Homo sapiens: one gene and its partners. The protein of the gene in region 4 purifies or fractionates together with the protein of the main gene of each other region. This does not show direct contact. Each region holds a gene or a part of one and is shown on either strand. Other genes may lie near its edges. The genes, in order: PPP1R9A, DCAF4, ZBTB5 and DCLK2.

The links.
Region 1: the proteins of DCLK2 (region 4) and PPP1R9A purify together in Homo sapiens (affinity purification with mass spectrometry; one large-scale study listed by BioGRID and IntAct). This does not show direct contact.
Region 2: the proteins of DCLK2 (region 4) and DCAF4 purify together in Homo sapiens (co-immunoprecipitation; one large-scale study listed by IntAct). This does not show direct contact.
Region 3: the proteins of DCLK2 (region 4) and ZBTB5 purify together in Homo sapiens (affinity purification with mass spectrometry; one large-scale study listed by BioGRID and IntAct). This does not show direct contact.

What each region holds. Positions count from the first base shown.
Region 1 is NC_000007.14:95,245,201-95,252,733, reverse strand, and holds part of PPP1R9A (neurabin-1), read right to left. Parts: exon of another isoform or gene 6,825-7,533; coding exon of another isoform or gene 6,796-6,824; intron 6,180-6,795; coding exon of another isoform or gene 6,123-6,179; exon of another isoform or gene 5,752-6,122; intron 5,735-5,751; coding exon of another isoform or gene 5,647-5,734; intron 5,262-5,646; coding exon 5,208-5,261; intron 2,709-5,207; coding exon 2,479-2,708; intron 973-2,478; coding exon 876-972; intron 776-875; coding exon 604-775; intron 1-603. UniProt on the Homo sapiens protein: Binds to actin filaments (F-actin) and shows cross-linking activity. Binds along the sides of the F-actin. May be involved in neurite formation. Inhibits protein phosphatase 1-alpha activity.
Region 2 is NC_000014.9:72,952,345-72,959,877, reverse strand, and holds the end of DCAF4 (DDB1- and CUL4-associated factor 4), read right to left. Parts: intron 5,718-7,533; coding exon of another isoform or gene 5,715-5,717; coding exon 5,616-5,714; intron 5,493-5,615; coding exon 5,395-5,492; intron 4,356-5,394; coding exon 4,182-4,355; intron 3,493-4,181; coding exon 3,378-3,492; intron 1,267-3,377; coding exon 1,073-1,266; 3' UTR 175-1,072; downstream 1-174. UniProt on the Homo sapiens protein: May function as a substrate receptor for CUL4-DDB1 E3 ubiquitin-protein ligase complex.
Region 3 is NC_000009.12:37,440,687-37,448,219, forward strand, and holds part of ZBTB5 (zinc finger and BTB domain-containing protein 5), read right to left. Parts: intron 1,870-7,533; 5' UTR 1,866-1,869; coding exon 1-1,865. UniProt on the Homo sapiens protein: May be involved in transcriptional regulation.
Region 4 is NC_000004.12:150,074,731-150,083,003, reverse strand, and holds the start of DCLK2 (serine/threonine-protein kinase DCLK2), read right to left. Parts: upstream 4,560-8,273; 5' UTR 3,977-4,559; coding exon 3,556-3,976; intron 1-3,555. UniProt on the Homo sapiens protein: Protein kinase with a significantly reduced C(a2+)/CAM affinity and dependence compared to other members of the CaMK family.

The DNA of each region.
Region 1 (7,533 bases), on a different chromosome or scaffold from region 4:
CACTCTAGGAAGCCAAGGCAGGTGGATCACCTGAGGTCAGGAGTTCGAGACCAGCCTGGCCAACAAGGCAAAAGCCCACCTCTACTAAAAATACAAAAATTAGCCAGACGTGGTAGCACATGCCTATAGTCACAGCTACTGGGGAGGCTGAGGCATGAGAATCGCTTGAACCTGGGAGGCGAAGGTTGTAGTGAGCTGAGATTGCACCACTGTACTCCAGCCTGGATGACAGAGTGAGACTCTCAAAAAAAAAAAAAAAAAAAAAATCTAAACCTTAGTCATTAACACATAAGTAGTGTAGTTCATCCTAGATAGGATGAACTACAATTTGTAAGGCAGTTTATTAAATCTGTCAATTGTATGATGATTTTAAAATAGTATTTGGCTTATCTTTAGTTGTGATTTGTTAATGCTACATATTAAAGTATTTATTTTTGATAAGACGAGAGCTAAAATGATTGACTCCTATTTTGATAAGCCTTTTCTTCTTTCCCATAGTAGGAAGGTATTTCCAACTTTTAAATCTCTGGGTCAGAAAAAGAAAAATAAAAGGCCAAATTACACAGTCATCAAAAATGATTTTTGTGGTTGGGTTAAACAAACCTTGACTTAGGCCATCTTGGCAAGATGTCTGCTTGCCATCCAAGTTCTCCATGGTATCCCCTTTAGAGACTTCACCAAGAGATGTTCTTCTCTCAAAGATGTTGTTATTATTGTTAACTTGAGTCCCATTTTGCTTCAGTAGCCTGAATACCTCAGCTTCCAAATCTCTAATCTAGGAAAAACAAATCCATTTATAAAACTCTAAACTAGCGCTCCCCTCCAAGTACAGCAAAACCATCTTATTATTTAGTGTCTTAGGGAACACAACTTACCCGCACTTGGAGGCCTTGCACTTCCACAAGATGAGCTTTTTCCAAATCTTCTATTTTCTTTCTTTCTGCTTCCTGTCTTTTGATGAAATCAAGCTCTCTTAAGAAGAAAATAATAGTTCTGATTATATCATACACTCAATAAATGAAAGTTCTTATCTGAAACAATAAACTGCATAGTAGGATAAGCAACTGAACAGTTATTTAAATGGACAACATTCAATCAGTTAGAGGAAAAAGTATAGTAATGAAAGAAACTAAAACATCTTTAATGGGTCACAAGGCAAAGAAAAATGATTCGATTCTGCTTACTATAATTTTCTTTCGTAGCTCCTGATTCTAGAACACCCATACATATTTAGATAGGAAAGACTGCACTAATGACCCACATTGGGTAATTTAGTGGAGATAATTACTTGTCAGGTAGAAATAATTCCATTTTTCCAATGTCATAAGCATAGTATAGTAAACTGATGTAACTAGATAAGAGTTCGAAAAAGATAATTGTAAGATTTCTATGAATAACAGTGAAGAGGGGGCTGGGTGGGTCAGAAACATCGAGAGGGGCACTCACTTATAGACCTAAGGATAATATGGGGAGAAGAGAAACAGTTCCATTTTGAAAACCTGGAATAGAATATGCAAATTTAGCAAAATTTACTATAAAATTATTTCATGAAAAAGAGTTTGGCAAATAGTTAAAACAGTGATGTATTGAATTTATAGTCACAGAGAATAATTACTCCCCTTTTAACAAGAAACTTTTGATAGCAAAACTCTTTTAAATATTAAAAACATTCTTCCACATAATAGGAAATAAAAGAAATATGGTTAATCTTACATATATGCTTAGCTTCTGAGGCTTGGCATGGAAGACCAGAAAAGGTACTGGTACTACTTATTTGTTCTAACTAGCCAGAAGTAACTGATGAAAAAAATCTAGTAAAAATCTCCGTGGTCAGTCTCCGTGACATTACACCGAGATCCAAGAGATGGAAGCAAAGGAGCAGTAGCTCAGAAACAGCTGTTGAAAATCAAAAGCAGAATGTGGTAATGGTCTCTCTCCCTGCAGTGAAAGGAGGCCCTCCTGATTCTCTCAACAGCTGAGAAATGCAGAGTGGCAGGGCAGGGGGCCTTGCTAGTCGATATGTGCACTGTCTGTAGTGGGAAATTCTGTAGTTACTGATCTAAGAATAGAGAGGAGCAGCCTGATTCAGGCCCCAGCTGTGGCTTGCGTGCTCCACATCCAATAGTCAGTCATTCTACATGACTTTCCGCTGGGCTTCTTGTTTCTAAATCATAGAGGTGTTTCAAAAAGAATAAAGAAATTCAGATGTTTTAACAGTTATAAACAACGATTAATTATCAAAAATAGCAAAGAGGCCCTGGCAGCCAAAAACTATAAAATATACAAAACATAATCTCATGAAAAAGTGATAGAAGTGACTTCCAAAACTTAATGTGTATTTATGCTGTAACTATGCTCCTGGATAGGAAAGATATCTCTAAGGTCATCTTTTCTGTTCCACTAGATATTACAAAATTATTGGACATAAACCTTCTTTAGACAAACATAACTATTCTTTAGTTATTAGAAGCGGCTTACTTTTGTTGAAAATCCTTGATCAACTTCTTTGCCTTGTTGTATTTCTTTTCCAAGGCCTGATACTGGCTTTGAGTCTCTTTGAGATGCTCATTCACTGTGTGGCATAATGTTTGGGCCTCAATCCAGTAGCTTTCCAACTTCAACATTCTTTCCTTATTCTCTTCTATGTTTTGTTGGAGTTGGGTTTTTTCTAGTTCCCACCTCACTTTCTCATTTTCTGCTGCCTGCAGCTGGAGAAAGCAAACGTCAAGGCAAAGATAATTTGGCCACTTTTGTGGCAAAAATCTCTCATTTTTATAGCATGTTGTAGATCAAGTTCTATTATCATAAACAATCACTGAATCCACTTGAGATGAGAAAAGCAGGTATTATTTTTATAATTCCACAGATGATAAAATGGAAGCCTTGAAAAGTGAAATGATTTGTCCAAGGTCACACATTTGATAAGTGATAAAACATGGATTGGATTCCACCTCACACGATATTTCCATCACACCAGGTGATCTGAAATTCTGTGAGCAGTAAAAGATGTTTCAGAGTTTGATATATCCAACGAATGTCAACATGTTTTGAGAGTTTTTAAAAAATATATAATTATATATAAAAAATTAACTAAAAAGGGAGTGGAGAGGGCCAGGGAGGAGAGAGGAGTTAGAAGCACAGTATGGCTTAATGGTTAAGAGGGGATCTCTGGAGTCATTCAGCATGGATTTGAATCCCAGTTCTGTCATTATTGGCCATTAAACCTTGGACATGTAATTGAAGTTCTCCAAGACTCAATTACATCATCCATACAACAGAATTGTGATATAACACATCAGAATGCTTGAAATAGCTCCTTGGGCATAAGAATCATCTGATAAACATTAACCACTTTCACTCTGCTTTTAACCCTTTTGGTGATCTTATTTCATTCTTTATTTCAAGGAACATGAACATATTCTATAGCTCATTATTTTACATGTAGTGTAATGAATTTCTCAAGCTTTATAAACCTCAATTCCCATAAAAATATAAAAGATAGTGTAAGTAAAAGTATAAATTTTTGCTTGGTTAATTTAATTCCCTCCCACGGAACAGAAAGCCATAACCAGCTTTTTGTTTTTCTGCTTCTAGGGACTCTTAGGAATAGATAGTAAACTAGTCTAATACCCTCATTTCTACAGAAATCCAATACTGATCATTTAGGTGAGGGCTCAAAAGTCATTCCCAATAACTCTCTGGCCTTCAAACTGGTACTTTATCTACTTTATATGCCTTCTTTAAAGTTCAAAAGGATGCAAAGTCATTATAAACTATCAATGTTCAAAATCATATAGCACTTAGCAAAAGTAAACATGTATTTATATACACACACATCTATGTTTTTGCAAATATTTTTAACTAAACACATTTGCAAAACAGTTTACAAAGTTAGAAAGCATCCAAAACAATGTCAAGATTAGGAATTCTATTATCAAAATGAATAATAAAGAATCATAATAAAGTGCTAATCTGTGGATATTACATGCCAATATAATGATGAAAAAATATAAAATGCTAATTTATAGTATTTTCTAAGTTAAATGTCTATAGTCTAATACATAAGCGCCATTAAAACACAATCACAGGGAAAAAGAGATCTTTTTAAAACAACAATTTAAAAAATCTTCAATTCTTTCTATGTCAAGAGACAATGACAATTTAAAACAGGAATAGGTTATTTACTGCATCTTTTATTAAGCAATGTTTTGTATCAAGTTGTTTATTTAGCAACCGCCACTAATTTAAAATTATTATTCACGGAGCTGGACTAACACCGTGAATGATGTATAGTCGTATTTTGACTAAAGAGCTGCAGAGTGAATTAGCTGAGAATAGCATTTAACCAAAATAGCCTTGCTAATTCATCTCCATTTAAAACACACGGAGAAACCAAAACAAGTGTTCAATGTGAACAACAAAAGAGATCATTAGTGGTAGTGGTGGTGGTGATTGGGGGCGGGGGAGGGTAATTATGTTTTAATTTTTAAAAGACCATTGAAACAATAAAGAATATTGCTTTAAAAGTAATTTAAAATATATTTTTAAATCTTTGAAATTGTATATTTGATAAAACTAAACAAAATTGCTAGAATTGTGTCTCATACGAGTGCCTTAAAGTTTGTCAATGAAAATATATAGACTAATAATACATACTCCCTTTTATCAAGACCTTTTCTCCCCCACAAATTTAAATTATGTGAACCAAACAACTAAAAATTTCCAGTAGTACCTGGCACTTAAATTATGCATGTATTAAGTTTATAAGATTTAATTATTAGAAATTAGAAATGGTTTATAAAACATTGATGTGCTATACTAAATTTGTTCCTACAAATGATTAAATCTATTTATAATAAGGTAAGTGAAGAGGAGATATAGTAGCTTTGCTTAAGGAATTAGTAATCAAAACATACTTTGCATACTTGAACCATTAAAAATATTACTTTTTAAGGAAATCTCAGAGGCCACATATGTGCAAATACATAAATATATATATCTAAAATATTGTGTTATTTGCACTGAGGGGGATGTGGGTGTTTGCTCTCACTGGCAGGTTTGTCTACGTACCTGACAGTGAAAATGAATCTATCACATTTGCATTCTTTCAAATATACAGGGACAAAACCTTTAGTCCTAGGATTGGATTTATTCATAGTATCTGAAGTTTAAAAAGTAAAATTCAAACACCATGTTTCGGTGCTTACCTTGGTCTTCAATTTTTGAATCTCTGCTTCTGTAACTGCATGTTTGATTTGCAACTGAAAATTGAAAAGAAAGAAAAAATCTGAACTAAGAAAGTGTATCTATATTTGTAAAGCCTCAGCAGCTACAAGAATGCCTTATTACATAGTAAAAGGCCTAGAAAAGTGCTGCAGTGCAGCAAGTTGTAAATTAAAGTGTCTACTGTGTGAAATGACACTGGGTGCAAACTAATTAAACACAGTTTATGGTCTATACTCCCTAACATCAGATTAGGTTACCAATTTAATTGCTCAGGGACCAAGAGAAGAAAACACTTTTTATTGCCCTCTTTGCAGCTCTTCCTTTATGATTTGAGCGTCAAGGAACTGTTTCCTTGCTAAGTCTAGCTAACTGAACGGCATACACAGGCAAGTGAGCTGATAGTGTGATTTAATTCCAAACCTGGACGTGTGAAGATTTATTCCAAATCTGCAAGAAAGGTGGCGCTATGGTCCTGTGAGTTGCAAGCACATTCTGATCAGCAGCTCCACTGCAAAGGGAGAGAGGAGGAGGACTGCAGTTGCACGGGGAAATCTCTGATACATATTTTTTTCTTTTAATTGCAGGAAAGGTACAGATCCAGATTTCTGTCCTCCAAAAGATCTGCTCCTTTTGAAGACTCAGACCCCCAACAGCTTCTGCCACAGCTTATTAGCAATAAGAGTCACAGTTTACATTTGTTTTGCTTGTCCCTCCCCCCGCTTTGTTTTCTTTGTAAGGGAAGAAGAAGGAACTGAACGAATCATTCGTTTCCTTAGGGGATCAATAAATACTCCCAAATTTAAGAAAAACAACTTATGGGTTCACAATTTCTTGTCTGAAATCCTTGGGGCCAGATGTTTTTGGAAGTCAGCATTCTTCCAACTTCAGAAAAGTAGTTACGATGTATCTTCTACAAATTGCTTATTATCCACAGCAGGGTCTTTGGAGGCACTCTATAGTCAAAAACACATGAATTATTTTTGCCACCAAACATGAATATTCCCACTAAGCGAGGTACATGAAGACTGTAAATAGCATCCTGTTAGGTCAGGTTGTACCACTAAATTAGTTTGACACAAAATTACAAAAAAGACTGGGAGCGTTTTGGATTTAAGACTGTACATGAGGGACCATAAACTTTTACTATTACTGTAATCAAGTAAGGCTAAGAGGTTTTCTTATCAGAAGTGAGTGAGTCTGACAGAAGGACAGAAATGTGGAGTTTTCAGACTAGCAATGTGAACCTGTGGAGACCACAGCACCTCATAAACCTCAGCCCTCTCTTGGGTTTGCAACCTGTATTCCCTTGGGTTTTTACCAAGTTCATGGGGACACATGGGAAGGATGATAAAGGGAAGATGGAAGAACCAAGGACAGGTCTATTCGACCCCCTTGGATGCCTGTGGCTAACTGCCCAGAACCTGAGGGTTCCTAAGTTCCTTGTAAAGTGCTCCTCCTGTTATGCAAAAGGCATGAGGTCTGCACTGCCACAGCTCTTGTTACTGCTCTTGGTGCTGAGAGTGATTTTGAAACTTTTCAGTTTGATTCTGCCGCACTCACACTGCTTACATTCTTCCTGACCTGGTCACTCTGGCCATCTTGCTGGTGTGGCTATTGCTCCTTGCACCCTCACCGGCTCCTAGGGGCTTCTATGCTTGAACAGTTTCTAGAGTAGGACCCTATGTGGAAATGTTATTTTTATAAGACACAAAATCTGGCTCTTTTAGTTTCTTACCACAGCACAAGTGGTACAATTCTTACTTACCTGCCTTTAGCAGATGCTCAGAGTATTAGTGCACCTGGCAAGGAACCTAATCACAAGTTTTCTCAATGACTAGATTGGAAGAAGGTGTAAAGACACAACAGTGCTGCTCAGAAATCCCTGCAATTCCTACCCCTTCACTGATGAGGTCTATACTCATCCTAAGTCCTAGTCTGGATGGATCTTTTGGAATCCTGACACACCAGGCTAGCCAGTCAGATAGGCTTGAATGCCCAGTGGACGCTCCAACTGTAGGCTCTTCTGAACTCATTTTAGACACGGGAAGACTAAAGATTGGAGAAGACAGCCAACCTGGTCTTTTCCTCACAGTGAATCACCATTAAAACCAGAACTAAAACCTGGATCTTCTCGTTCTGATCCATTGCCACTTTCCTTAGAAAATAAGGATGAATTCAATAGGCATTCGTTGAAGAGTTGCTATGTGCAGGATGCTGTAAAAATGACTTTTTCTCCCTCTAATAAATATTAGGGCTAATCTCCCCCACCAGTATAAACTAATAACGTAAAAAAGGGCAAAAGTACTT
Region 2 (7,533 bases), on a different chromosome or scaffold from region 4:
GCTTCCCACTGGCTGAACCTACCTAGCTGCTGGGAGCCAGGGAACCCTGACCTAGTCCAGAGGTGAGTCTTTTGGGCATGCACAGAGCAGGGTGGAGATGGACAGATGATGAGGGCAGAGTGGGTCTGGAGGGGCCCAGGGAAGCTCTCCAGGAAGGCTATGAAAGCTGGTCCCAGCAGCCCAAGCTCATGATCTCCTAAGTCATTCACAGAAGTGCATGTCACACCATGATTCTTCTCTTGGTTTTATTGTTTGGTAGAAAAACAGGCTCTTTAACACTGAATAAACATCTCACGAACTGTCGCTCCTAGATTACAAAAAGTCAAAACCAATTTCCTTTGACGCCGGGCCCTTGAATCTGACATTCAAGTCACCGTAATAGAAACCAGAGCTGCTGAACCTTACATTCTGGAAGGTGCTTGAACAAAGGCATGTTAAGGACCGTTTAAAACTTCTAGCATGTAAGAAGATCCATCTTTCCTTCCAACGCCTTTGGATAATAACAGCAGAATCCCGGAGATCTGCTGCTGAGTTTGAGAAGGCCAAGTTTAAGGATTCCAAACTCCAGCCTTCAATATTTCTGCAGAAACTTAGAGAAGTAACCTCCCCGTCCTCTCCGCTGGCTTCCCCAAGTACAGATGCAGGATGCAGGTCTTTCTTCCTGCTACCCAGGCACCGAGGACTCAAACCATCTCACCGTCTCATCACTGGGCTTCTTCAATGGGCTCTTGGAGGAAGAAGCTTTTCGTTTTTGCCAATCTTCAGTCCTTAGAAAAGTCCTTTTTGTTAAGAAAAGGCAGGGAGGGTTAACTAAGTTCTAAGAATTCAATAAGAAAAGGAAAGAGGTACCTTTTATGAAAAGGACTTCCAAGCTCTCTCAGCCAGCAATTTAACTCAAATAACTTTCCTGAGCATCTCCACACGGAACATTCAGCACTTCTCTCCTAGCAGCCAGAGGATGGGATCTGTGTACACTGAGTGTCACTTAAAACACCCTCATTAGATGCAGTAAAAAGTTACGCTTTACTCCCGTAAGTCAAATCCACATGGCTCTGGGCTGTGCCCTGCAGAATTAGCTGTAGGAGTAACAGTAAAGGTCCTGCCCGACAGCCATGAGCAGCCCCGGCGCGCCCCGGGAGCCCCCCAGCCGCGACGAGAAGGCCACACTGGGAATGTCGGCCTTGGAGGCAGGGTACGGGGAGGGTATGGTTCTCAGTAGGCGGGCATCGTGGAGGCTCCAGATTCTCGTGTAGCAGTCCTGGCCCACTAGGAAAGAGGAGAGACACATGGCAGGCTAGTGAGAGAATGCAAAGGAAAACTTACCTACATGTGGACATGGCTTCCCAAGATTCCTCAGGGCTGTGATTTCATGTGAGCCAAAACACAAACTCATTAACGGACAGTATTTCTACGGATAACCCAAGTCGCCCTGTTGTGCTAGAACAATGACAAGATGCCCTGGTTGGCTGTGTGATGCCATGAATGGCTCGGAGACATCCTGGCTAATGTCTGGGTATTCTGCTGCTCTTGATGTCACGGAACGTTCAAGTGCGAGTGTGGCCCACCTGGTCTAGGTGACATGCAACTGATTTCCCCCATTTTTTAGGGACAGGGTCTTGCTCTGTCGCCCGGGCTGGAGTGCAGTGGTGTGATCAGGGCTCACTGCAGCCTTGAACTCCTGGGCCCAAGCCATCCTTCTGCCTCAGCCTCCTGAGTTAACTGGGACTACAAGTGTGTGCCGCCATGCCTAATTTTTTTTTTTTTTGAGATAGGGTCTTGCTGTGTTGCCCCAGCTGGTCTTAAACTCCTGGCCTCAAGCTCCCTAAGTGCTGGAATTATAGCTACCACACCTGGCCTGATCTTTTCATGTTATAGTAAAAGATCTGTCAAAGTCATTACATCCTGGGGATGGGCTAGGTTGACAACTCTCCCCACAGCTCTTTCTGGTTTAATGCTTCAGTTCCTAGGACCGGTTTAAGTCTTCAGGGCTCCAGTTCTGAGGACTGTGACACACAACAGCATGGGTTACAGCAGCCCAGAAACATGATATACACTACTGGAGACCTTCAGCAGGAGAAGAGGACAGGCCTTGGGCAGTCATGGATTTCACATTTGTGATTCTGATCACTTGTGTGGCTCTAAGACCAGAAGTGCTATCTTGGCTGAAGCTGAATCCCGGCTGCAGTTTATTACTGCAGCTGGTAACTACCTGCATCTGCCTCTCAGCAAGGCTGAGCTCTCTCTATCATCCAGCTCACAAGAGCTCTTCTGTGATAAAAACAGGTGAAAAATCGACTTAAAAAGGAGGCGAAGTCCTGGTGTTGATGAGAATAGTAAATAAGTCTATGAATGTCCTAACAAAGTAATGCTTCCTAGCCACAAAAATGTTCCATGGGGTATAAGCCCTTTCTATAGGAATACCAGTAGAGGTGACAATTCTTGAAGACTGAGAACACATTCTGCAGTGTCAGCAGCTACTATTTCAGTGTGAAAGCATTGAGCCTGCACACTGTCTGATTACGCTATAGCCACCATCATCTGTAATCAACTGGTAACTCCCTTCCAGGGGGCTTAGTGGCCAGATAGCTGCTCCTAATCTGCAGATCATGGAGCCACAGGGATGGTAGTAAAGGGGCCACAAATCTTTTTTATTTATTTATTTATTTTGAGACGGAGTCTCGCTCTGTTGCCAGGCTGGAGTGCAGTGGCGTGATATCGGCTCACTGCAACCTCCGACTTCCTGGTCCAAGCAATTCTCCTGCTTCTGACTTCCGAGTAGCTGAGAGATTACAGGCAGGTGCCACCATGCCCAGTTAATTTTTGTATTTTAGTAGAGATGGGGTTTCACCATGTTGGCCAGGATGGTCTCAATCTCCTGACCTCGTGATCCACCCTCCTTGGCCTCCCAAAGTGTTGGGATTACGGGCGTGAGCCACCGCGCCGGGCCGGGGCCAAGAATCTTTACAATGACCATAACTTCTTTTCTCAGCATCCTCTGGTGGAAATGTGAGTAGAGACAACAGGGAGCCCAAGTTTTTGGATAAGATAGTTGCGTGGTGGAATAATGCTGGCCTGATGAAATCCACTCAAACTCCAAACCCAGGCTCCCCAGGACCTCCCCACCTGCCTGTTTCTGAAGTGACGTTTGCCCACTGACATGGGATGAGGCTGTCCACCTGGTGGACATTTATTTACACTCCTGATTACTAATATAATCTAATTCTACTTCCCTCCTAGTCTCCCCACCCAGCTGTCCACACTCCCCTTGATTCAGTTCTGTTTTGGGGTAACTTTTCCCTCTGCTGCTGAAGTTGCTGGGATCGCCCCTGAGAGACAGTATTTGATGGGGTGGAACTTCCCCTTCCTTCCTCAAGTACCTGCCACCAGGATTCCTTCTTCCTCGTGCACATGCAGGGGCAGGTAGGCGTACTCATTCACGTGGCCTTCGTACTGCCTTACGCACTTCGTGGTCCTCAGGTCCCACAGCTTGATCTGTGGAAAAAGCACCAGGGGCCATCAGGGAGGGGCCAGGGGGTACCATGGTGGTCCCCAAGTGCAAAGCCAGGAAGGCAAGGTGGTCTCCAGTGGCCTGTGCAGGTCATGAAGATCTCCATCTCGAATTCTTGAGCCTTGTTGTTCATCAAAAGCATGTAACCAGGCCGGGCACGGTGGCTCATGCCTGTAATCCCAGCACTATGGGAGGCCAAGGTGGGCAGATCATGAGGTCAGGAGTTCGAGACCAGCCTGACCAACATGGTGAAACCCCATCTCTACTAAAAATACAAAAATTAGCCGGGCGCAGTGGCGGGTACCTGTAATCCCAGCTACTCAGGAGGCTGAGGCAGGAGAATCGCTTGAACCTGAGAGACAGAGGTTGCAGTAAGCCAAGATAGTACCACTGCACTCCAGCCCGGGCGACAGAGCAAGACTCCATCTCAAAAAAAAAAAAAAAAAAAAAAAAAAGGACATAACCAGAGAATCCTTTTCACTTTTGTTTACGTCAGATTAGGCTCATATGGTCAACGAAGCAGTCCCCATGCAGGGCCTACAAATCACTTGGTCTTCAGCGAAATTCCCCTGCCTGGGGTCTTGGTGTGAGGACCTCTTCAGCAGAACCCTTTCACCTGGCAGGGCACTGGGCCACGAGACCCTGTGGCCTGAGAAAGTCCATGATCCCCTACCTTTCCAGCCATGTCTGAAGCCATCAGGTATTGCTCATCTTGGAGGATCCGCACAGAGGTCACTGCTGAATCATGAAACAGGCGGGTGGCCTTCCATCCCTTGCCTTGATTTCCACAACGCAGATCAATGGCAAAGATTTCCCCAGAGCGGCAGCCATTAAACAGCAGAGGAGCCTGTGGAAAGAGGGACTGCTCAGTGCCTGGCTATCATGACATCCCTCTGAGGCTGGGCAGGGCAGGTCCTCCTGATACAACCCCTCTTCCAGCCTCTGGGTCAGACGGTGTGATTAGACACGTGCTGGTCAGGGTTTGGGTCTCAATGGAGTTGGAAGGGAGGATGATTCCTTGTTAGTGGCTAGAAGAACCAGACCCCATGTGTCCTCCTCATGGGTAGCACGGAGGTCCTAGGAGCTGCCCCCCACCCCCCTGCACTGTCCCGTTTGGCCTTTCTCTCTGAAGTCCCAGAGATAGCATTCCATCTCCACCAAAAGCAGGTTAGTGGGTTCATTCACTTTTAAGGGAAGACGGCATTTTCTAGAGAAAAGTCTGTGAAATATAGTAATGACCACAATTTTTTTTTTTTTTTGAGACAGAGTCTTGCTCTGTTGCCCAGGCTGGAGTGCAGTGGTGTGATCTTGGCTCACTGCAACCTCCGCCTCCCGGGTTCAGGCAATTCTCCTCAGTCTCTCGAGCAGCTGGGATTACAGGCGCCCAGCACTATGCCTGGCTAACTTTCGTATTTTTAGTAGAGAAGGGGTTTCACCATCTTGGCTAGGCTGGTTTTGAACTCCTGACCTTGTGATCCACCCATCTTGGCCTCCCAAAGTGTTGGGATTACAGCCATTCATTAGCCACTGTACCTGGCCTGATTTTTTAAACATATAAAATATATAACCTGGGAGCTGTGAAGAATTGGTGTTTGGCTTATACATTTTAAAAATGGTTTGTCCTACTGGGTAAATCCAAGTACCCAAGAACTGCTCACAATACCTTTCCATGAGAGGTTGTGTAGAGCAACTCAGGCCAGCCTTTCTGGATCAACCAACTTTCACTCGGCTCAGACACCCTTACAAAGGAACCCACTGATCCTTTCTGATGCTCTTTCTCCCCTGTCAAAGAGTACTAGATGGCACACAGAGGAGTCCAATTTCAATCTGGCCAAATTTCTACATGGGGCAAACTTTTATATTCTGCCTGTCCCAATCCAACCAACCATGAGAGCAAACTGCTGGGCCAAGACATCACTGTTGGTCCCAAAGGACTGCCGGTGTCCCGTCACCACGTTGGTCAACAGGACCCGCCGAGACAAGCCTGGCGGAGACAGAGATGGGCTGGTAAGATTATGTCACATGTAGTCTGGGGAGAGGGACAACTACATGGGGTTTTAAGGCCTGTTAAGGCCTCTTCTCTGGGCACCTGGGGAGCCAGGCTCACCTGTACTGAAGCAGTTATTTGCTTGGATATTCAGGGACCAGGCACAGGACCAGGCACCAGGGATCCGGAAACTGCAGAGCATGCCAGGCCGGTCTATTCCTGCTAAGGGGATAGGAGAATGTAAAGTGTGGCTGCCTTCTAGGCAGGCCAGGGACCACTGGGTTCGGAAAACATCCAAATATGCCCATAGCTGCTCAGAGGGTCTATACCTTTGGCCCCATTCTGGGTTTTGTGGTTGCAAGAGAGACTCAGCTGGGATGCCTGGCTCACAAGTGGTTATTCCGAAAATGCATCTTTGTTAACGTTCCCAGTAGTCGTGTTTACAGTACGAATAGTACTGATATCAGGGAGGTAGTATACTGTTGGAGGTAAGGTGGCTCCGATCCTCGATCACCTACCAGCTATGTGATCTCAGGCAAGTGTGTGTGTATATACACACACACACACACACACACACACACACACACACACACACACACAAATAAATAAATAAATAAACTATATATATATATATATATATATATATATATTTTTTTTTTTTTTTTTTTTTTTTAAGACAGGGTCTTGTTCTTTTGCCCAGTCTGGAGTGCAGTGGCGTGATCATGGCTCAATGCATCCTCAACCTCCCAGGCTCAAGGAATCCTCCCATCTCAGCCTCCCAAGTAGCTGGGATCACAGGTGTGAGCCACCACACATGGCTAATTATTTATTTTTTGTAGAGATTGGAGTCTTGCTATGTTGCTCAGGCTGGTCTTGAACTCCTGGGCTCAAACGATTATCCTGCCTTGGCCTCCCAAAGTGTTGAGATTACAGGCATGAGCCACTGTGCTTCGAAAAAATATTTTTTAAAATAAACTTTTGCATTGATAGAACGTACAGATTGTAAGGATACAGTTCAGTGAGTTATCACAAACTAAATATAGCCATGTACCCACCACCCAGGTTAAGAAATAAAACAATCCATGCCAGGCGTGGTGGCTCACGCCTGTAATCCCAGCACTTTAGGAGGCCGAAGCGGGTGGATCACCTGAGGTCGGGAGTTCGAGACCAGCCTGACCAACATGGAGAATCCCATCTCTACTAAAAATACAAAAATCAGCCGGGTGTGGTGGTACATGCCTGTAATCCTGGCTACTTGGGAGGCTGAGGCAGGAGAATCGCTTGAGCCCCAGAGGCGGAGGTTGCGGTGAACTGAGATCGTGTCATTGCACTCCAGCCTGGGCAACAAGAGTGAAACTCCATCTCAAAAAAAAAAAAAAAAAAAAAAAAAGGCCGGGCATTGTGGCTCACACCTGTAATCCCAGCACTTTGGGAGGCCGAGGCAGGTGGATCACGAGGTCAGGAGTTCGAGACCAGCCTAACCAACATGGTGAAATCCCGTCTCTACTAAAAATACAAAAATTAGCCGGGCGTGGTGGTGTGCGCCTGTGATCTCAGCTACTTGGGAGGCTGAGGCAGGAGCATTGCTTGAACCTGGGAGGCGGAGGTTGTGGTGAGCTGAGATCGTGCCATTGCACTCCAGCCTGGGCAATAAGAGCAAAACTCCGTCTCAAAAAAAAAAAAAAAAAAAAGACAAGACAAGACATAAAACAATCCAGTACCCCAGAGGCCTCCCTCACATCCCTTTCCCAATTACTACCTCCCCAAAGGGTACTGTGAGCCTGACCTCCAACACTAAAAATTACTTTTGTAAGACAAATTCTGAAACTGTCTGCCTCAGTTTCCTTATCTGTAAAATGGTGGTAAGACACACTCCTGCCTCATAAGCTTGCTGTGCAATGAAATACCAGGCACTGGGCTAAATGTGCATGATCTCACCTAATTCTCCACGGATGTGGACTGAGAAGGCCCTGTCCACTTTAGAGAGGTTCAACATTCCATTCAAGTTGGCAAGGGGCAGAGCTGGGATTCGTGCCAG
Region 3 (7,533 bases), on a different chromosome or scaffold from region 4:
AAAGTTTTGCAGCAGATTTTGCAGGCATACTTGCGAGCTCCCTCTACAACCAAAACATTGTGCTCTGATAAGGCCTTCTTGCACTTTGACAGAACATCTGCAGATGCCCTGGTCAACTGTGGAGGGCCAGGCTGGGAAGGATGGCCATTTTCAAATGAGGACGTAGCTCCATTCATCATTAGCTGAGAACTGGTAGAGTTTTCTGGGATCTGTGAGCTCCTGACGGAAGTTACAACTGGCATTTTGGGAGCTATGCGGCGGTAGTAAGGAAAGTTACTGGCTCCTCCCCTTGGGGAACCTATCATTACCCTGGAGAAGGAGGAGTGGAGGCCCAAACCAGACCTGGAAAAGTCCATCCCAAACTGTTCTCCTCCTTGGTAGCCTGAAGTCTGCACACACGGCAGGCCCATCACCTCCTGCATAGGCCTGACGAAGTGGGAGTCTGCAGGTTCACTAAATGGGTTCTCTACATGGGAGCCAGGGGCAGAGGAGGGCCCACCTGCAGGCCCAGCCTCTGGACTCAACAAATAGGGGGCCTCACTCTCCAGCCTGCAGTCACTAGTGGTGTTTGGAATATTATCATCATTGTTCTGATTTGCAGTAAAGTTATTTCCTCTGCTCTTGTTAAGAAAATTCGAAATACTAAAAGTGGACTTATGCTCTAGGTTATTTGTGACTTCCAAAATATGGATATCACCTACCCTGTCTGTGCTAGACTGGGGATCTGAAAAACTCCGATCACTGCTTTCAGGGCTGAGGTCTATCTTCTCGGCACTGACCACAACTCCTTCCACTTCCACAGACTCGCTGCCTTCTGCTTGTGAGGTCACATCGCTCACTTCATCCTGAGGCTCAGGTGAGCTCAGGGGCTCAGATTTAACCACCACTCTCATGTGCTCCTTCTCACCAAGGCCAACCTCAGGGTTTTCACACTGAAAACTACTTTTCTCAGGTGCAGCTTCCTGATCAAAACTAGTCTCAACCTGAGTTGCACGAGAGGCCATGGACAACTGTGCCATGTTGCCAGCACTGTTATCAGACTGGCTGGGCACCTGGGCATCTTCTTGAGTGCCAAAAGACTGATCAAACATGATCGCACTATCTTCCTGGTTATCAGTCATTCCATCAGCTTTAGGATTATCCACAATTTTCAGAGAATCTGGTGAAAAGAACTCCTCCCGAGAATGAACCCCTGAAGGCCCATTCTCCGGTGTAACATCTGAAATGGCAGACTCATCTATGGAGGGTCGGAGGCGCTGCCTGGCCCGCTCCTCTGCAGACTGCTTGCGCTTATGAAGGCGTCTCATGGGGAAGGGCGTGCGCTGATCCAGGTTACTGCGCATGGAAGAGCTCATGGGGGCTGGCTGCTCCTCGCCATTCTGGCTGGAATTGAGGGCTGAGCTCACGATGCTTAGTCCCAGCTGCTGTAGCATAAAGGAGCGCTGCATGCGGGCGCTCTGCTCCTGAACGCGCTCACTGGGGGGAGACATGGGCAGCGTCCTTGTCGTTAAGTAATGTTTACATGCCTTAACAACAGAGTTCAAATGCAGGTGAGAGGCTGCCAATAAGACATCCATTACATTGCTCTCCCCCAGCATGAGGGTGGAGGTATACATCATGTCAATCAGTGCAGCAAAGGCCTCTGCTGTCACCACCTCGCTATCCAGCTGGATCATGTTCATGGTCTGATCTCCTTCTGCCACTGAGAACAGGGCTCGGAAATGCGTGCTGCATGCTGCCAGCACGGAGCGGTGGGCTTTAAAGTGTCTATTCCCCACTACAATGACACAATCACAGAGCTGGCCATGAAGTCTCTGGTAGTTCAGCTGCTGGAAGATTTGTTCAAAGTGACCAGGAAAATCCATGATCCTACAGAAAAACAAAGAAAGAAAATGTTAAGACCTAGAAAAGCTTCAAAGTCAGAACACAAAGGGTATGATGAAAAGAGTGGAATGGATGGCCAAGCTTGGACCTTTGAAGCCCGTGATATCTCTGATAATGGGCACATACACTAAGAGCTTGTCATATAAGAAGCAAATGGCAATTCAGCCATCAGCCCAGGAGGCATGCACACATGTGGGCCTAGCTACCGACAGGCTCCCCTTTACTCTTCATATGAGCCATGTATAACACTAAGGGTCTAAATTAGTAAAGACCAGTGTGTGAGTGATGGCATATCTATCCCACAGAAGTTTGTTAGAATTCTGCATTCCCTAAGGATGAGGAATGAATACCAAGAAATTCCAAAGTCTTAGGAACCCTAAATAAGTGAAAAGGGCAAATCAATATTAGTGTGGAAGATTTCCAGTTATAGATGGTAGCAGATTGCACACACGCATTTGCCCCGTGCTTTTTCCTGAAACCCCACTAAAATGACACGAAGCCCGGCATGGAGGCTCATGCCTGTAATCCCAGCACTTTGGGAGGCTGAGACGGGCAGATCACCTGAGGTCAGGAGTTCAAGACGAGCCTGACCAACATGATGAAACCCTGTCTCTACTAAAAATACAAAAAATTAGCCAGGCATGGTGGTGCATGCTTGTAATCCCAGGTACTCGGGAGGCTGAGGAGGCGGAGGTTGCAGTGAGCTGAGATCACACCACTGCACTCCCAGCCTGGGCGACAGAGTGAGACTTCATCTCAAAGGAAAAAAAAAAAAAACACTAAAGTTTTTGTTTAAACTTTAAAGGTGTAAACCCACAAGGAAAAAGAGAATGAGAAGGCCTTCAATAGCATTTTGGAAGCTGGGGAGAGGTAAATGAGTGCTAACTGACTCAGCACACCCCAAAAGCGAAAATCCTAAACTGGGCAGCGGATAAAACAACCTAACATATATAAATCTCATTCCCAAAGGCCAAGGAACTGGTTGCCCTTGCCAGGGGAAATGGAATGAAGGTGTGGCTAAGGCAGGAGGCCTGGCTGAAAATCTATCCAATTAAAAAAAACAAAAACAAAAAAACACCAGGATGTGGTGGCGCATGCCTGTAATCCTATAGCACTTTTGGAGGCTGAGGTGGGAGGATTGCCTGAGCTTAGGAGTTTGAGACAAGCCTGGGCAACAAGGTGAAACCCTGTCTCTACCAAAAATACAAAAAATTAGCCGGGCATGCTGGTATGTGCCTTCAGCTACTCAGGAGGCTGAAGGGGGAGGATCACTTGAGCCTGGGAGGCAGAGGCTGCAGTGAGCAGAGATCGCACTGCTGCACTCCAACCTGGGTGACAGAGTGAAACCTGTCTCAAAAAAAAATTAGCCGAGCATGGTGGCGTGCACCTGTGGTCCCAGCTACTTGGGAGGCTGAGGTGGGAGGATCACTTGAGCCTGGGAAGTCAAGGCTTCTGTGAACTGTCACTGGGCCACTGCACTCCAGCCTAAGCAACAGAGCAAGGCCCTGTCTCAGAAAATAAAATAAAAATAAGTGAATGAATAAGAGAAGGAATTAATCAGGTCCAATATCTTGACTACAGAAAGAGAAAAGGAAGAATACAGAGGGTGAAAATGATGTAAGAAATGGTTTTTTGTTTTGTTTTTGAGACAGAGTTTCGCTCTGTTCCCCCAGGCTGGAGTACAGTGGCGCAATGTCGGCTCACTGCAACCTCCGCCTCCCGGGTTCAAGTGATTCTCCTGCCTCAGCCTCCTGACGAGCTGGGATTATAGGTGCACGCCACCACACCCGGCTAATTTTTGTATTTTTAGTAGAGACAGGGGTTTTACCTTGTTGGTCAGGCTGGTTTTGAACTCCTGACCTCAGGTGATCCGCCCACCCTGGCATCCCAAAGTGCTGGGATTACAGGCATGAGCCACTGCGCCCGGCCAAGAAATGGTATTTTTTAAATTTTGAGAACTGAAGAAATTTGCTTATTAAGACTAAAAAGGCCCAACAAGTACTCAAAATATGAAGATACAAATCCCCACACTAGGCTGACATCAGGAATAAAATTGGCATTCGTCTTTGCCACAGCAGCACTAAAAGCTAGAAGATGACAGTTCCTTCAAAATTATCCAAGAAAATGATTTCCAACTTAGAATGCCACACCCAGCTAAACTATTAATCAATTAGGATAAACTAAGGCATTTTCAGATAAGAACCCAAAGGTTTATCCTTTCTCAGGAGGCGACTAAGATTGTAGGAAACAGGAGACCCACCAGAGAAGACAGGCAAAGGGAATCCCAAGGATGATGATGAAGCTCCAGATGACAACTAGGCAGCAGGCCTGGAGAGCAAAAGCAGTCAGACTGGAGCAGGAAGGACTCCAAGGAGTGGGTCTCCAAGGGGGGTGGGAAAAAAAGGAATGGATAGATAACCTGATGTGACTGGGAGTGCTTGTAATTTACCAGTCCTATCCAAGTGTGCAGATAGGTCATTAAAAAAAACAAGAAGTTTTTAAATGGATCAATGATTAACTCCAGGAAAAAAAAAAAAGGTTGTTTACTCACAGGACACAATATGTAGTTCATTCGTAGACAATATTTACACAGTCATAAAATATGTACACTAAACCGAATGTGAGATATTGGGAGGATGAGAGAAAGCAACTTTGCATGGGGGAAGAGGGTAGAGGAGATGAGGTATAATAAAGTTAAATCTTCACTTTCCTTATTAATCTAGAAATACAGTCTGAAATAGGTTATCTCAAAAAATAGTAATTTGGCATGTTATTTAGAAGTATAGAAGTTAACCAACTTGGTGGTTCACGCCTGTAATCCCAGCGCTTTGGGAGACCGAGGTAGGTGGGTCCCTTGAGCCCCCAGGAGTTCAAGACCAGCCTGGGCAACATGGGGCAAAACCCCATCTCTTACTAAAAATACAAAAACAATTAGCCAGGCATGGTGGTATGTGCCTGCAGTCCCAGCTACTTGGGAGGCTGAGGGGGATCACTTGAGCCCGGAGTCAGAACTTGCAGTGAGCAGAGATCACGTCACTGCACTCTAATCTGGGAGACAGAGTGAGACCCTGTCAAAAAAAAAAAAAGAAAAAAGAAATATGGAAGTCAATAGTGGAAGAAACAGCTGAAATAATTGAAAGTGGTTGCCTCTGAGGAGTGGGTAATTGATGGGGAAAAGGATGGGACAGGGGACTGCTGTTTTGTTGTTGTTTTTGTTTCTTTTTACCTATAAGCCTTATGGAACTATAGGCTGGGTGTGGTAGCTCATGGCTGTAATCCTAACCCTTTGGGAGACTGAGGCGGGCAGATTGTTTGAGCTCAGGAGTTCGAGACCACCTTAGGCAACATGGCAAAACCCCATCTCAACTAAAAATGCAAAAAGTAGCCGGCCATGGTGGCGAGTGCCTGCCATGTAGTCCCAGTGTACTTGGGAGGCTAAGGTGGGAAGACTGCTTCAGCCCAGGGGGCAGAGGTTATAGAGAGCAAAGATCGCTGCACTGCACTGCAACCTGGGCGACAGAGCAAGTCTCTGTCTCAAATAAATAAATACATAAAAATGTATACACATATATTTATAAAATTAAATTTAAAAAAGGTAGATCTATGATATTCTAAAGGGATATACCTGAGATCTTTGCAAATCTCCAAAATTCACAAATACCATCATGGCATTTCATAAGAAGGCAGCATGGGTGCCAAGTGGCTCCCCAGGCCCAACCACTTGCTCTGATGTCCCAGCCATACAGCCTTACAGGCCAAAGTTGGTCAGGATCCTGGGAAATAACTGAAATGGCAAACTAAGTCCACAAAATTCAAGGGTCTACTGTGGCGACTGAGACTATTATGCTATTCAGCTATACTTGGAAAGTTAACTATCGGAAAAGCAAATGCCTCAAAGCAGCAGACACATGTTGGCCATATTGTTTTGCCTATGTTTGTTGAGCTTTGATGAACTTTCAACAACAAAATAGATCACACATACTTTCCCACTGAGGTGTCTGTTCTTTGCTATCATGTATGAGAGATCAGATCTCCAAAGATGCAGCCACTGCCACATCCCTTCTTGCTTTACCAAGCTTTCCGGCAGAAAGCAGAGAGCCAGCAGTGGCAGGCAGCAGCACACACATCCCGGGTCCCCACCCGACTCACTCAGGGCCCACAGAGCTTAAGGCTTTGGGGAGATTAAACAAAATGCAATTACTGCTCATTAAGTCTATAGCCCTGCCTTAGAAAGTACACTCATATATGAATAAGTGCCAAGTTCCAGAGGGGTAATTATTTTGTAGCAGTAACAGGGAAGAAACATTCTGGTTTGAGGAATAAAATAAACAGGGAATTGTGGTGGGAAGTTGTACAAGACTCAGAGTTGCTCTTCTAAGCGACCATGGAAGCTTGGGCTCAACAGGCAAAAACAAGGAACACTAGACACTCAGCGTTACTGCTTTCTCTCCTACAGTGGGGAATAGACCCAGTGTATTAGTCTGTTTTCAACTGCTATAAAGAAATACCCAAGACTGGGTGATTTATAAAGGAAAGAGGTTTAATTGACTCACAGTTCTGCATGGCTAAGGTGGCCTCAGGAAACTTACAATCATGGTGGAAGGCAAAGGGAAAGCAAGGACCTTCTTCACATGGTGGCAGAAGAGTGTGAGTGTGTGAAGGAGAAACTGTCACTTATAAAACCACCAGATGTTGTGAGAACTCACTATCAGGAGAACAGCATGGGGGAAACCACCCCCAGGATCCAATCACCTCCTTCCCTTCATGTGGGGATTCAATTTGAGATGAGATTTGGGTTGGGACAGAGCCAAGCCATATCACCCAGCATTGTAGTAACAGTCTCACTGGTGACAGTAACAGAGGTAATGGTAGTGGTAATAAAATATATATTTTTTACTGTGCTTTTTTTTTGAGACAGGGTTTCACCCTGTTGCCCAGGCTAGAGTACAGTGGCATGATCATAGCTCACTGCAGCTTTGAACTCCTGGCTTCAAGCAATCCTCCTGCCAGCCTGGGATTACAGGTATAATAACAGTAATTACTGAGAGCCTGACAGTCATTATGCTAAGTACTTTTAATTTACATTATTTCTAATCTTCAAAACAACAGTGGCAGGTGGGAATTATTTTCCTGAGTTAATAGGTGAGGGGGGCCATAAAAGACTGACTTCACAAATAAATAGTATTTCAACTAGGCATACTGATTTAAAAGGGCACTAATATTCTGCTCAATGCTTCTTTTTTTTTTTTTTTAGATAAGCAAAAGAACTTATATGAGAAAAATGGCTTACTTAAAAATTACGGGGCTGGGCATGGTGGCTCATATCTGTAATTCCCAGTACTTTGGAAGGCCAAGATGGGAAGATTACCTGAGCCTAGGAGTTGGAGAACAGCCTAGGCAATATGGCAAGCCCTCATCTCTAAAATAAATAAATAAACAATTTTTTTAAATTGTGGTCCCAGAAACACCATTTTGAGGAAATTTTCCAAGAGCCAGGGGATCTTTGAAAAGAGGCTACTGAGGTAGCTAAACACAACCCCAACAAAGATAAAAGGTTTAAGTAATACTGGAAGACAGGCAAACAGTACCTACAATCTTTTAACTTCCCATCAGCCTAGAGATCCTCAGCTCTACACTAGATCCCCCATC
Region 4 (8,273 bases):
CCAGGGAAGTGAGGTGAAATTTTTCTCAAATCTAGTCAGTAGAACTCAGGAATCCTGACTTGGTCAGGCACTTTTTCTACTGTCCTTGGTTATATCTCTTTAGGTCATCAAAACTTTATAAATATTTCAAAATGCTCAGAAGGAGAGAAGACCAAACGCTCAGAAGGAGAGAAGACACACGGAACAGAACTAAGACTAGGAATTCTGAATCAGTCCCTAATAAGAAAGCTAAAGAACAAGTCATCTGGACATTCTCTGTTGGTTATTACAGATACTGAGCTCAGCAGGCTCACAGCTTAAGACAGCTCAACTAATTTTTCCAATATTGATTAAGAGCCACAGTCCTGCCGGAAGAGGTCCCCCAACTAGTTTTAAAGAATAAACAGGATTACAGGACTGCACAGCATCAACTCAAACTTAATCCAGCAAGGATGGATAAATCAATAAATTGAAGGTGCTTGCTGGTTTAGTGTAGTGCTGGAGGAGTGCCAGCTCACACTAGAACAGCTTTTAGTCTCCAGAGACTCTCAAGGTCAAGGGCAGAAGAAAAAATAATTTGGGCCATGCAAATTTCTTTTGTCATCTGAGTTCAATGAGATTGGGGCTCTGAATGAATGTTCATATCCTACTGTTTTGAGTCATCACTTTCTATTCTTCACTCAAGACATTTCAGAAAAAAACATACCTCTTAAACTACAAGTTTCATGGGATCGAAGAAGTAGAGCCTAGTTGAACATAATGTTGTAAAATACTACCTGAGAGAGCTTTATTAAAAATAATCAACCAAAACGAAATAAAGCAGTCAATTTTGACAATGTGGTGAATATATTACAGACTTATTTTTACTAATGCAAATAACTTCACAGATAGCTGCTTAGTTCTCCTACATGAAAAATCTGAGCACACAATTTTAATTAAAAGTTGAAACTACTTACATTCTGGAATGATTGACAGTAAGCATTCGTGATTCTTTTTCTTTTTTTCTTTTCTTTTTTTTTTTTTTTTTGAGACAGAGTCTTGCTCCATCGCCCAGGCTGGAGTGCAGTGGTGTGATCTTGGCTCACTGCAACCTCCGCCTCCTGGGTTCAAGCAATTCTCCTGTCTCAGCCTCCTGAGTAGCTGGGACTGCAGGCGCCTGCCGCCACACCCGGCTAATTTTTTTTTTTTTTTTTTAAGTAGAGATGGGGTTTCACCTTGTTTGTCAGGCTGGTCTCGAACTCCTGACCTCAGGTGATCCACCCACCTCAGTCTCCCAAAGTGCTGAGATTACAGACGTGAACTATTGTACCTATATTTTCTTTAAAAAAAAAATTGCATTGCTATGGAGTATTCTACTAATTTGGGGGAAAACTGAAGAATTAAACAAAGACCCATTGTCAGAGAGAGTTCCATATGACAAAAAAAGTGTCCAAGTTTTCTTCTTTTGCAGTAATTTTATTGTATTAAAAACTTCTTCAAAGAAGTGGGCAAAGTCATAAAAAAAATTTTGGCTGTGCAACTATTTGTTATATTATTTATCATATTTTGGTATGATTTGGACTCCATAGATAATGTTTTTTCCAAATCCCCATCCACTAAAAATCAGTGAATGATTTGAAGGAAATTTGTTAAGTCAATTTGTAGTTGAAACTACAGTTGCAGAAGTAGACCCAGTGGACATGCATGCGGTGGGCGGTAAAAGACGCAATCTATACTAAGTACTCCTATTAATGGACATGCATAATGTCCATCTTATCATCTCTCCTATGAGATTCATGTTTACGTTATGTCAATTTTATGTAGTAAATCCACTGTTAAAATTTCTTTAGAGAAGGATATTAACATTGTTGACTCTTAAGAAACCATACCAGGAACAGTAGTATCCCAATGGCATGTTGAGTAACAAGTGCTTAAGCAAACAGGCATTGCCTTGATCCTGCAAATCTGATCTTGGGTCAGTCAAACAACTGGTTACTCTGTTTTAAAATAGCTAGGCAAATATTGCTTTTAAGTGTTTAACATGATTAAGAAAAGCAACAAGGCCCTTTGAACATTGTATCTTCCTTTTTTACTTATACTCCTCCAGCTATCCCCTTACCTCCTCAAGAAGCCCTTAAAACCAAAACACACAACTGACAGAATGGGTGAAGTCACAAGCACATACATATGTAGACTGAAGAGACAATTTAATTTTGGCTGGGTCGCGTTCTAGGCAGGGCAGCAAAAACTTCTGACTAAATAGACAAACTCAACGACCTTTAGTTTTCCTCCATGTGGCTCCATTAGCTCAGCAGAGGTGAATCGTAGACGAGAAAGTATATGCTGCAGGCACTGTGAGGCAAGGCATGCTGCCTAAGTTTCCTCATCTATAAAATGGGGATAATGCCTTCAGGACAGAAAAGCATGCTGAGATAATATAAGAAAAACATCTGGCTTGATGTTCAGCTTCCTCTCCCTGCCAAGCTATTGCTATGACTACATGGAATGTGCCATTTGCATTAAGAAAGATGCACAAGAGCGGACTGTATGTAAACACGCAGTCAGCACATACCTGGGTTCTGCCTGGTCTTTCTGGATGTTATTTAGAACTGGAAACAGGTTCTTAACCACTGATAATGCCTTTTCTACCTGAAAAGGATGAGGCATACGTATTGCAGGAATTCAAGGATGACCCAACATCCAGCCAAGCAGTCTCTTTGACCGAGGCATGGTTGACACAGCAGAATTACTAATTTTTAATAAGTCCCCACTGCTGAATCCAATGGCCTCTATCATTCTAATTAGGTACTCTTATTAGAGGATAAGGCTGGAGAGATTGACCTTGATTTACCTTTTTTCCAACCAAATGTGGAAAACCCTTTAGCACGGTGATTGTTAACCAGGGTCCCACATTAGAATCACCTGGGGGGGGGGCTTTTGAGACTCCAGACGCCTAACCCACACCCCAAACCCAACCAATTTAATCAGGATATCTGGGGGTTGGGGGATCAGGGTCCCATATTTTTCGAAGTCCCCAGTGTGATCCAAGATGAAGCCAAGGTTGAGACCTGCTGTCTAGGATCATCCCTCTTCACCTCAAGTAACTTCTGCTGCAAGGCAAACTAGGAAAGCCAACCTAGAGCATTTCACAACCACAGCTTCTGACAGCAGTCACAACAGGACCCCGAATACTGGAACATGACAGGAGCCTGCACCAGGGTCCACACCGAGGGTCCAACAGAGCTTATTAGTAGGGGATTACCCAGCTCCCCATGGGAGAACCATTTTCTCAAACAGTTTGCACTTCAATACAAATAAGTTCAACAATCTTAGGAGATGCCACCAGTGCCTAAATTGGCCTGACCATCAGGAAATTTTTTCCTTCTTTAAGAGACAAACCTCTTGGGAAGGAAAGTCAGTGTGTATGTGGGCACCCCACCGGCCCCCACCCCCAGCCAATCTCTAGAGAAGCAGACAGAAGCATCAATTCCCGTGCGGCTTGGAAAGCACCCCGCGGGCTCCCCGCTGCGCCGGCTCACGCCCACTGCACCTGCCGGCGCTCCGCCGCACCTGCCGTGCGGCGCCCTCCCCTCCTACCTTCCAGCAGCTCGTCCAGGCTGGTGACCTTCCGGCTGCCGTCGATGGTGTAGATAGTGCGGACACCCTGGGGCAGGTTCACGTTGTCCGACAGGGAGCGGGTGAGCTCTATGAGGAGCGCATCGAAGGACCGGAAGCGGTCGCTGGAGATGGCAAACACCAGGCCCTTGAAGTAGCGGTCCCCGTTCCGGTAGAAGCGCGCCTTCTTGGCCTTCTTCTCCGAGCTGAGGGCCTGCAGGGTCCGCGTGCGGTAGAAGCTGCAGTGGGCACTGTGCGCCGGACTGGGGATGAGCCCGTTCCCCTTGGGGCCCGAGCTGCTGCTGCCCCCGGAGGAGCTGGGGGCCCCTCTCCGCGACCCCGGCCGCGGCCTTTTGTCCCGTTCCTCAAAGTGCTCCAGCTCGATACTCCTGGTGCTGGCCATCGCGGCTGCTCCGAGGGCGTCCGCAAAAAGACGTTCCGGGCCGACTAAGGGTGCGAGCGCCGGTGCAGGGACGTCTGACTGCGAGGGCCCTTAACGCGCCGGGACACCTGGCTCTGGCATCCCGCCCTCTCCGCGCAGGTGGGGCCGAGGAGCCGCGGAGGAGCCGACCCGCCCGCGCCCTCAGCTAAAAGTGTCCGCAGCGCCGAGCTGCCCAGGTCATTGTCCAGTGCGACTTGCTCCGTGCCTCCCGCCTGCCGGGGAGCCCCACGCCCCCGCAAGCGCCTCCTCCACCCGGCCACGCCTCACAAGTCCCGCTCGGGAGCCGACCGGGAGAGGCAAAGTTGGGCCGCCCGAGGCTCGCGCTGGGCCCGCGGGCGCCCACAAAGCTCGGGCGTCTGCCGAGCGCTCCCGGGAGCGCCGAGGGGAGGAAGGAAGGAAGGGTGGGGCGGGGCGCGGAGCGTGGGAGAGGCCCCCGGGGGAGTCGCGCGGGCCCAGGCCCGGGGTGCAGCGCCGCCGCCTCGGCCGCGCCCGGATCCCGCCCGCCGGGCAGCGCGCGCCGTTCGGGGCTGAGAGGGCCGTGTCTGGCCCCTTCCTTCCCTGGAGCGCGGCCCTAGCGGGAAATAATGCAGCCCGCCTCCCACGCAGCGGTCAGGCCCGGCCCACTGGCAAGCATCCGCGCTCTGGCCTCCCTCCGCCGCCGACAGGCTGTCAGCGCTGGAGGAGGCTTCCCGGCCCCGGGGATGCCAAACCGCGGAGAAGGGGAGGAGGGGGCGGAGGAGGGGGCGGAGGAGGGGGCCGAGCGCCGGCGCGGGAGGAGCAGCTCCTGCGGGTCCCGGGCAGCCCCGCCCGCCTGACGGCTCCTGCCCGGCGCCGCGCGTTAATGGGCGCAGCCGCGACGCGCGCTCCTCCGCCTGGGAAACGTAACCGCGCAGGCCAAAAACTACAAAGGAAGGAGATTCAAGGGCAGGGAGCACATCCCCAGCCAGCATCCCAGTGAGGACCCCAGGCCAAACTACCGCAGAAATCCGAAGCCCAGCATTGACTTGGGGCACACCATTCATTTTTTTTAAAAAAGATTTGTTGCTTTATTAGAAAATCCTTTGAGAAAACAGCCTCCACTGTTTCCATTGCAGATTCGCTAATATGGTACGTTCAGTAACTTTGAATGAATGATGAGAAGTTATTGGGTGGTAGAGGGGGTTATGTAATCAACGAATATTTATCGAGAGCGTACCATGTGTCAGGCATTGTTTCTGTCACTGGGATGCCCTAACAAAGGAAAGAGAGACTCTGCACCCACTCCCCCCGCCCCGCATATTTAATGTTGTCAATTAAAGCTTCTTACCTAAGAGGCCTATCATTTGTGAGCACCCATCATAGTGGAAATCTTAATGCCGTAGTGTCTATTCAACAATAAAAACATCTTTTCCAAGACTTAAGAGAAATACTAGTTACTTGCATTTTGTTATTAGGAAAAATAAAGCTCAAATATGTTTGATCCCAATTTGGCACGTGAAACCTTAGAACATTCAACACCTGGTTTTCTGAGCAGCCCTAGACAGCAATCCAAACTGACCTTTCAGGAAGAAAGGCATAGTTGCTTTTTTTCGGGTTGAACTGAGTCCTGGAAGAGCATGAATAAAAGAAGGTAGAAGCACATGCAACGGTCTAGCATCTGTGAAGTTGGTGCGCCCCACCAAACACACGCACACACACGCATACACACCCTTCATGGCAGCTCCAGAAAGGTCTCCTGCTCGGTGCACAATACTACTCCTAAGGCAGTTCTGGGCATACACCTGGGCATACCTAACTTCCTGCGGGGTTGGGGCATGCTAGGAAGTCAGAGCTGATCTGAGGCTTCAATGTAGTTTTTCTAGAGGAAAATCCTGCAGCATCATTAGGTCCACCACCTTAAAAGGCCTCAACCTAGATCAGTTAAATCAGAATTTCTGGAGACGGGCTTCTCCAACAGTATTTTTTTAAAAGTACCCCTAAGGTATATCCAGAGTTTCCAACCACAGGCTGTAACACCAGGAATCAAATAAATCAGTGCTTCTTCTCAAACTTTAATATATTTACATGTCATAGGGGAATCTCGTTAAAATGCAGATTGCTATTCTGTAGCTCTGGGGTGGAGTTTGAGATTCTGCATTTCTGATGAGCCCCTGGGTAATGCCAATGCTGCTGGTCTTGGTACAAGACTTTGAGAAACAAGAAACTAAATTGCAAATTTATTGAGATAAGTTTCCATCTAAGTACCAGTAACTCCACAGAGCCCATCAACTTGCCTTAAGATGGCCATGTTCATTTGTATCACTGTTAGTATTTCTTAGGGGGAAAAAGACTTTGTAAACTATTGCTGTAGAAACAAATTATCCTAAACTTAATGATTTACAACAATAAACATGCATAATCTCAGCATTTTTGGCAGATCGGAAATCTGGGAGCAGTTTACCTCAAAGCCTCATGTGATTGCTGTCAAGATGTTGACAGGGGTCACAGCCATCTAAAGGCTTGACTGGGTCAAGAAGATCCATTTCCAAGACAGCCCATTCACATGAATGGTAAGGAGGCCTCAGTTCCTTGTCATGAGTACCTTTCCATAGAGTTGCTTAAGTGTCACCATGACTTGTCGGTTGGCTTCCTCTAGAGCAGGGGTGTCCAATCTTTTGGCTTCCCTGGGGCACATTGGAAGAAGAATTGTCTTGGGCCACACAGGAAATACACTAACATTAATGATGGCTGATGAGCTAAAAAAAAAAAAAAAATCACAAAATCTCATAATATTTTAAGAAAGTTTACGAATTTGCATTGGGCTGCATTCATAACTGTCCTGGGCTGTGTACAGTCCACAGGCCATGGGTTGGACAAGCTTGCTCTAGAGAAAGCATCCAAGAGAGCACAAGGTGGAAGCCACAATGTGTGTTATGATATAGCCTTGGAAGTCATACACTGTTATTCCCACAATATCCTGTAGGTTACACAAGGCAGCCCTGTTTGATGTGGGAGGAGACTACACTAGGGTGTGACTAGGAGTCAGCAATTATTGGGGTCATCTTGCAGACTGGTACCACGGGTTTCAATCTTTCAATCTTTAGAACACTAACATGCACTTCCTCACTCAAAGATCCTTGATAAGAGATTTGGCCCTTCTTAAATAGTGAGTACAATTATACAATATGCCAGTATTTTTAACTCAAGGTGGATTAAAGACTTAAATGTAAAACCCCAAACCATAAAAACCCTAGAAGAAAACCTAGGCAATATCATTCAGGACATAGGGATGAGTGAGGACTTCATGGTGAAAACACCAAAAGCAATTGCGACAAACGCCAAAATTGACAAATGGAAATAAAGAGCTTCTGCACAGCAAAAGAAACTATCACCAAAGTAAACAGTCAACCTACAGAATGGGAGAAAATTTTTGCAGTCTACCCATCAGACAAAGGTCTAATATCCAGAATTTACAAGGAACTTAAACAAATTTACAAGGAAAGAAACAACCCCATCAAAAAGTGGGCAAAGGATATAAACAGACATTTTTCAAAAGAAGACATTTACATAGCTAACAGACATATGAAAAAAAGCTCAACATCGCTGATCATCAGAGAAATGCAAATCAAAACCTCAATGAGATATCATTTCATGGCAGTCAAAATGGTAATTATTAAAAAGTCAAGAAACAGTAGATGCTGGCGAGGCTGTGGAGAAATAGGAACACTTTTACACTGTTGGTGGGAATGTAAATTAGTTCAACCATTGTGGAAGACAATATGGCAATTCCTTAAGGATCTAGAACCAGAAATACTATTTGACCCAGCAACCCCATTACTGGGTATATACCCAAAGGAATATGAATCATTCTGCTATAAAGACACACACACACACGTATGTTTACTGCAGCACTGTTTACAATAGCAAAGTCATGGAACCAACCCAAATGCCCATCAGTGATAGACTGCATAAAGAAAATGTGGCACATGCACGCCATGGAATACTATGCAGCCATAAAAAAGAATAAGATCATGTCCTTTGCAGGGATATGGATGAAACTGGAAGCCATCATCCTCAGCAAACTAACACAGGGACAGAAAACCAAATGCCCCATGTTCTCACTCATAAGTAGAAGTTGAACAATGAGAACACATGGACACAGGGAGGGGAACAACACACACCAAGGCCTGTTGGAGGGTGGGGTACAAGGGGAGGGAACTTAGAGGACAGGTCAATAAGTACAGCAAACCACCTTGGAACACGTATACATGTATACCTTTGCACATTCTGCACATGTATC